2 linked regions of the Homo sapiens genome follow. The protein of the gene in region 1 interacts with the protein of each later gene in a pairwise test. Each region holds a gene or a part of one and is shown in the gene's direction. Other genes may lie near its edges.

The links. Proteins that work in one complex are often made in the same cells at the same time.
Region 2: the proteins of TTC3 (region 1) and XRN2 interact in a two-hybrid assay, tested with the Homo sapiens proteins (one large-scale study listed by BioGRID and IntAct).

What each region holds. Positions count from the first base shown.
Region 1 is NC_000021.9:37,159,901-37,163,758, forward strand, and holds part of TTC3 (E3 ubiquitin-protein ligase TTC3), read left to right. Parts: intron 1-901; coding exon 902-958; intron 959-2,089; coding exon 2,090-2,163; intron 2,164-3,858. UniProt on the Homo sapiens protein: E3 ubiquitin-protein ligase which catalyzes the formation of 'Lys-48'-polyubiquitin chains. Mediates the ubiquitination and subsequent degradation of phosphorylated Akt (AKT1, AKT2 and AKT3) in the nucleus.
Region 2 is NC_000020.11:21,330,831-21,334,330, forward strand, and holds part of XRN2 (5'-3' exoribonuclease 2), read left to right. Parts: intron 1-730; coding exon 731-803; intron 804-937; coding exon 938-988; intron 989-1,452; coding exon 1,453-1,610; intron 1,611-2,713; coding exon 2,714-2,788; intron 2,789-2,873; coding exon 2,874-3,007; intron 3,008-3,106; coding exon 3,107-3,164; intron 3,165-3,247; coding exon 3,248-3,355; intron 3,356-3,500. UniProt on the Homo sapiens protein: Possesses 5'->3' exoribonuclease activity. May promote the termination of transcription by RNA polymerase II.

The sequences.
Region 1 (3,858 bases):
AGTCACTGCCAGTTTTCCTCTCGGAATTGGAGCAATAATCAGCAAACTATGAGGCTTAAATTAGACAATTTCTATAAAGTTTCAGAGCTGATAAACATTAATATTCTAATTAAGAAAGGAAGAGTTCTTCATCTCCTGGCATAAAAATGAAAAGTTGTCTTTAATAACTAAACTTCTAATGTTCTGCTCTAGAAGGAAAACAAAGGGACTTTGTTTTGAGTGGCTCTAAATTACGTTTAAGTTAAAACAGTTCCAGAGTTGTCTTCCTTAGTAGTTTGCAGTTGCCTTTTATTCATTCTTCAGAAATTCTTCAGTTTAGGAAAGTGAGTAAATAGAGAAAAGCACAACATTGTGGCAGTTTTCAAAGAGAAAAATGCCTGTTTACTGATTTTCAGGAGCAAATCATCTATCTATATGAAATTTTGTCTTAATCTGCTCCATCAAATATTGCCCAGCTAAGCAGGGAAACACAGCTGAAATACTCCATAAGGAGCTGAAGGCTTCTTTATTCACTGTTTGTGCCCCAGTGTCTGGTCAGGTGCAGAATGTCTAGTTTGGCTTAGTAAAAGAAATATATTAATAATAAATTTACTATTATGGCATCTAACTGGAATTACTTAAAAGTCTGATTAATTACTTGAAATAACAGTCCAACCCTGTGGAAAATAAGATAAAAATGTTGGAACAACTTAATTTTAGTATACATTAGTATTATTAAATTTTGTTTGTTTTCTATTATAAATCGTAGCACTTGGGCTGATACACTGTAGTGTTATTTTTGTTAAACATTTTATGTACATTTAACTTATGGCTAGTCTGTAAAAACTCATATGGTTTCTTTATGTTGAGCTTCATAATGCTGTTATTTGAGTGTTCACTGATTTTTCCCCCCATTTTTTAGTTTAGTTCAACCAAGGTGAAAAACAAAAGCAAGAAAAAGAAGCCAAAGGATTCAAAGGTATGGAGTATTTTCTGTATTAATTCTTGTCTAAACTCTCCAAAATAGTTAGTTGGACATATACATTAGAATTGAGCAATTCTTGGGATATTTTGAAACATTTGTAGAGAAAGACTTTCTAGGACTTAAAGATGTTTTGGCAGTCTTCTACATTTTGAAGAAATTCCAGGTTCATATTATATAATAGCAAGTCTTGACACTCGTATTCTTTATTGTCTTTTTTATTTTTCTAGGTATTTCTGAGTAAAAAAAAAAAATTGTCATAATGTCCCAAAAAATAAATAAGTCTCAAAAAATAGATAACATATTTAAACTAAAAATGATGAATACTAATCATTATGACAGTCCCAGGATTGATAGAATCCCTTCCTTCCTCTCACCAAAGGCTCTCCTCCAAGCCCATTAGATAAGTAGGGCATTTTTATTTTTATTTTTGAGACAGGGTCTCCTTCTCTCACCCAGGCTGGAGAGCAGTGGTACAGTGACGGCTCACTGCAGCCTCAAACTCCCAGGCTCAAGTGATCTTCCCACCTCAGCCTCCCGAGTAGCCGGAATGACAGGCGCATGCCACCATGCCCAGCTAATTTTTTGTATTTTTTGGAGAGATGGGGTTTTGCTATATTGCCCAGGCTGTTCTAGAACTCCTGCGTTCAAGCGATCTGCCTACTTTGGCCTTACAGGCGTGAGCCACTGTGCCAGAAGTAGGGCACAATTTTTAAGTCTTTGGTGGGTTCTTCATGGCTCTTGTGTGTATGTGGGGAGCAGAAAGGGGGATGGAGTGAGAGAGAGTAGCAAATCTTCAAAGGATGAGAACAGTTAAGGAGTTCCAATACAACTTTTATTTTTATCTTTGACTATGTATTTAGTTTAGATAAAATGGGAGTTTAAACTGAGTAACATTTAAATTTTTTTGGAGCATTGGAAACTATCCTAAATGTTAATTTGAGCTTATTTTTGGCTGTTGAAACTTTTATTACTATGTGTTCCTGTTTATAAGAAAATTTGGATAGATCTTATATATCAGCAATTTGTATGTGTGTTTATATAAGTATTCATCAATTTTAATGATTTTTCTCTTTAATGGAATTTTAAGGTAGAAAATCATTGTCATTTTTCTGTCTTTTAAACCAGCCTATGTTAGTTGGGTCTGGAACAACTTCAGTAACTTCAAATAATGAGATCATCACTTCAAGTGAAGACCATAGGTAAGTATAATTTTTAAATTTTTGCTTCATTTTAACTCAAATGTCTTTACTTAATAAGTTGTGTTAATTTAATATATATAAACTTGTGTTTTATTTCCCTAACTTTCCTTTCTAAAGCTGTGCATCTGACAACCTGATGTAATTCCATCTTGATTACATTTATATAGTGTGGCTAGAAGGCATTAAGAATTCATTCAAACTGTGTTAAAGTCACGACACTGGTGACATTCATTCACTAAGTACATATTGAGAACCTACCATGTGCAAGGCTCTGTGGGAAAATCATAGAAAAATGTCTAGAAATTATTCTTTAAAATAGTCAATAAAGAGAATGTCCTGTTAATACTTACTAGGCATTTTTGCCTGTAAGAGAGGAAGCTGTTTTGGGAGCTGTATATGATGTTATGTTTTCACCTTATATATTAGTGATTTTCAATGCCATCTGGTTGTCAAAACTGAGTTTTCAATAAACAAATATTTAAGAAATAAAACTAGTGAGTAGCAGTAACCTTTTTATATCATACTCCTTTATGAACCAAAAATGTACAACATGGTTTTTTTTTTCTCATTTCTTAAAGGAGCTATCAGAGCAGTTAAAAATTACGTGGTCATTTCATGGATTCTTTAAGTAGGGTAATTGTTTTAAGTTAAAATAATAGCCTGTCTTAGTCAGTTTGGGCTGCTATAACAATATACCATAAACTGGGAGGCTTACACACAGAAATTTATTTCTCACAGTTCTGGAGGCTGGGAAGTCCCAAGATCAAGGTACTGGCAGATTCAGTGTTTGGTGAGGGCCTGCTTTCTGGTTCATAGATGGTGCCTTTTTGCTGTGTTTTCTCATGGTGGAAGGGACAAGGCAACTCTCTGGGGCCTCTTTTATAAGGGCAATAAGTCCATTCATGGGGGTAGAGCCTAATTACCTCCCAAAGAATCCACATCCTAACACCATCACATTGGTGATTAGGTTTCAACATATGAGTTTTGCAGAAACACAAACATTCAGACCATAGCATAGCCTTTACTGAGATTAATTCTTATGTATCAGACATTGTTTTGGGGGTTTACATACATAAACTCTTTCAATCCACTTATCCTGCCTAGGAGGTAAGTGCTATTATATTCTGTCCAATGTACAGATAAGGAAACTCTGAGGCACAGTGCAGAGCGACTTGCCCAAGAACACAAAGCTTATAAATAGCAGAGCTGGGATTTAAGTCATGCAGCCTGGTTTTAGAGTCCACACTCAAACTACTACATCTTTTTAGAGTGCTAACATCTTACATTTAAAAAAAACTTTTGTTTAGATGGAGTTTCGCTCTTGTTGCCCAGGCTGGAGCGCAATGGCGTGATCTCAGCTCACTGCAACCTCCACTTCTTGGGTTCAAGCAATTCTCCTGCCTCAGCCTCCTGAGTAGCTGGGATTACAGCCATGCGCCATGACGCCTGGCTAATTTTGTATTTTTATTAGGGACGGGGTTTTTCCATGTTGATCAGGCTGATCTCGAACTCCTGACCTCAAGTGATCTGCCTGCCTTGGCCTCCCAAAGTGCTGGGATTACAGGCGTGAGCCACCACACCTGGCTTAAAAAAAACCTTTTATTAATACCATTTACCAGTCTCAGTCTCACTTTAAGTTAATTTATAGCAGTTATAATACAATCTTCATTTGTCTTTCAGTCATTTAACAAGTTA
Region 2 (3,500 bases), on another chromosome or scaffold:
GAAAAGCTTCCAGGGTTTTTGGAGATGGGGTATCCTTGCATGGTTAGGTTTTAGATAGCTGAATTTTCTCTTAAAGCCAATTTTGTCCTCTTACCATCACTATGAAGCTATAAAATGGGATTCATAATTTAAAAAATATATATAGGAAAGTAATTTTTAAATGGAAATTTCCATTATTACATATCAATATACAGCAAAATTAGTAAGTTGTGGGGCTGTCTTAAATGGCTGTGTTCCCAAATATTTAAATAATATGTAAATGAACTTGTTTGTAATTTTAGGTTCATAAGCTGGCTTCCCTATTAATGAGAAATGGTAAATTATATTTTATAGATATGTGTTATTGATTATTCTTGGGGCATATATGGTTCAGCACTATATCCTTGCATAGTAGTGAAAATAGGAGCTTGTGAATGATCAGTTTTTCTGATGGCTAGGTCTGACCCAGACATTTCATTCCTTTCCATTACATGTAGTAAGTCAATCAATGAAGTGGTTTTGGTGTCTCTCACACACACACACCCCTTCTTTATTCAGAAAATTTTCAGTGAAGTAGTTTTGGTGTTTTTCACACACACACACACACACACACACACACACACACACACCCTTATTCAGAAAATTTTCCCGTAACACTTATCTCAGTTTTTCTTGAGACATATAATTCTTTTGATTTTTGTGCCTATAGAAAATTGGGGATAATCTGAAAGTGTTAACAATTTTTTTATAGGTTATTTTATCTGATGCTAGTGCTCCTGGTGAAGGAGAACATAAAATCATGGATTACATTAGAAGGCAAAGAGGTAAAGCTTACTTACCAATATTTGATTATATGTTCTATTTTTAAAAAGCCATTGCATAGAAAATACTTGGTATGAAGTGATATTCTTGTGGTATATAATATATTAATATAAATACATGTTTCTCTCTTGTTTAGCCCAGCCTAACCATGACCCAAATACTCATCATTGTTTATGTGGAGCAGATGGTAAGTTTCTTCTTTGGGATTTGCTTCTTTTGGATTAAACCATAGCAAGTTGATGGGTTGGTGTGCAGTAATGGATTATTCATGGTTACCTGGAAGTTCCAAAATGCCTTGGTTATTTTATGTTCGACAGGGAACTAGTATTGAGTTGCTGTTTAATCTGTGGTCAATGATCTTTAATTTCTTTTCTTCTTTCTTACATTTTTCAACCTTTTAACTCCCCATACCTTTAAAATGGAGAATTTCCCAAGTGTTTAATCCTTAGTGGCAGTCTATGTTGTAGGTCCACGTATCTAGAGGACTTCCTGTTAACTGGGAAATGCCAGGAAGTGTCAAGCTTTGGGGCTTTGCTGCTCATTTGGGTGCTCATTTGGGCTTTTCTTTGTGTTGGCATCTCATAGTAGTTTATGGTAAGACTTCTCTCAGAATACTCACTGTTCGATGTTTTTCTCATTGTTGATTGATAGCTGATCTCATTATGCTTGGCCTTGCCACACATGAACCGAACTTTACCATTATTAGAGAAGAATTCAAACCAAACAAGCCCAAACCATGTGGTCTTTGTAATCAGTTTGGACATGAGGTCAAAGATTGTGAAGGTTTGCCAAGAGAAAAGAAGGGAAAGGTAAGAACTTTGAGATGGTAGTTGCCTCATTAAAAAAAAAAATCTATTGTGGTAAAATGTATATGACATAAAATATCATTTCAACCATTTTAAAGTATACAATTAAATAGCATTAAATATTTGAGTTACCTTGTTTTTAAAATGGATGAAGAGAAGATTGTGGTTGATTAGTTCTTTATGTGCTTGTTCTGTTACCGTTACCCTTCACAGAGATGTATCTTTTTTCTTTTTTTTTTCTTTTGAGACAGTCTCGACAGAGACGAATCTTTTAAAGTACTTTAAAATAAACCTGCATTCAAAAACATGCACACACTCATCCTTTCTACTTAGCACTTTTTCTGATATTGCCTATATCTACACGAGGCTTAGTTCCCATAGATAATAATGCCCATAGCTTGTAATTTGTTTGTGGAAGTTATTTGTTTGAAATACTCTTCTTAAAAGGAACTACAACTTCTTAAGACTTTTAAGTTACTCCCACTTTTTATGTATTTTAGGTTCACTTGGTTATGTCCAGTCCCCTTTAAAGGGGCTTCTGTTTCAATAATATGGTGCCTCTTGAGTCATATGCTTTTTGAGGGGGGAAAAAGAATATGGTGCCTCTTTCAAAGACATCGTTAAGTGAAAAAAGAGATAAATATAGTGTATTATTTCAGATATGTAATACAATAAAGACAGTATACATGTATCTATGCACATCTGTTCACAAGGAAGGGGTAATCATTGGTTGGGTATAGGTCATCAGTTGGCAAACTTCAATCCTCCAGGTTTGGCCTGTGAGCTATGTTTTTTACATTTTTAAAGTGTTGTTAAAAACAAAATAAAACATGAAAGACTATTAAACAGAGATCATATATGTCCCCCAGTAGCCAAAATAATTTACTGTCTGGCCCTTTGCAGAAAATGTTTGCTGACCCCTGATCTAGACGTGGTTGATTTTATGGGTAATTTTTATTTTAAAATGCATTGGTGAGCTTTTAAAAATTAAATACTTGTGATATTAAAATGGATTGTGCGTTAGAAAAAGCCTTAAAATTTGCTTGGTTGGAAAAAATTACTGGACGTAGAGTAGACTTGTTTCATCTTCATTCCTGTTCTTGCAGCATGATGAACTTGCCGATAGTCTTCCTTGTGCAGAAGGAGAGTTTATCTTCCTTCGGCTTAATGTTCTTCGTGAGGTATGTAGCAATAATCATTGAAATCAGCACTCTAAAGCAGGGTGCCTTTGATAGCTGTAATGGCAGCATTCCTTTTTGGTTGTAGTATTTGGAAAGAGAACTCACAATGGCCAGCCTACCATTCACATTTGATGTTGAGAGGAGCATTGATGACTGGGTTTTCATGTGCTTCTTTGTGGGAAATGACTTCCTCCCTCATTTGCCATCGTTAGAGATTAGGTATGTGCATTTGTGTAGCTTTTCAAACGACTGTTTTAGGCTTCTTGACTTTACTGTGCCTACTGGTCCTAATGCATAATGTTTGTCTCTTGCTGACAGGGAAAATGCAATTGACCGTTTGGTTAACATATACAAAAATGTGGTACACAAAACTGGGGTAAGTTCATTCTTGAATGATTTCAAAACAGAAGTATTTGCTTTTATAAGAAGATCATTTTACATATATTTTATCACTTACAGGGTTACCTTACAGAAAGTGGTTATGTCAATCTGCAAAGAGTACAGATGATCATGTTAGCAGTTGGTGAAGTTGAGGATAGCATTTTTAAAAAGAGAAAGGATGATGAGGTAAAGTGTTTCTATTGCAGTAGCTAAAATTGCTCCTGTCTCTAATAGGCTATGATGATCCTGTGATTACTTTTAATCTCTTTGAGTGTGTTTTTATATCATTATGGTGTGTCAACACTAATGTAATCATGAGTGGTCAGTGCTT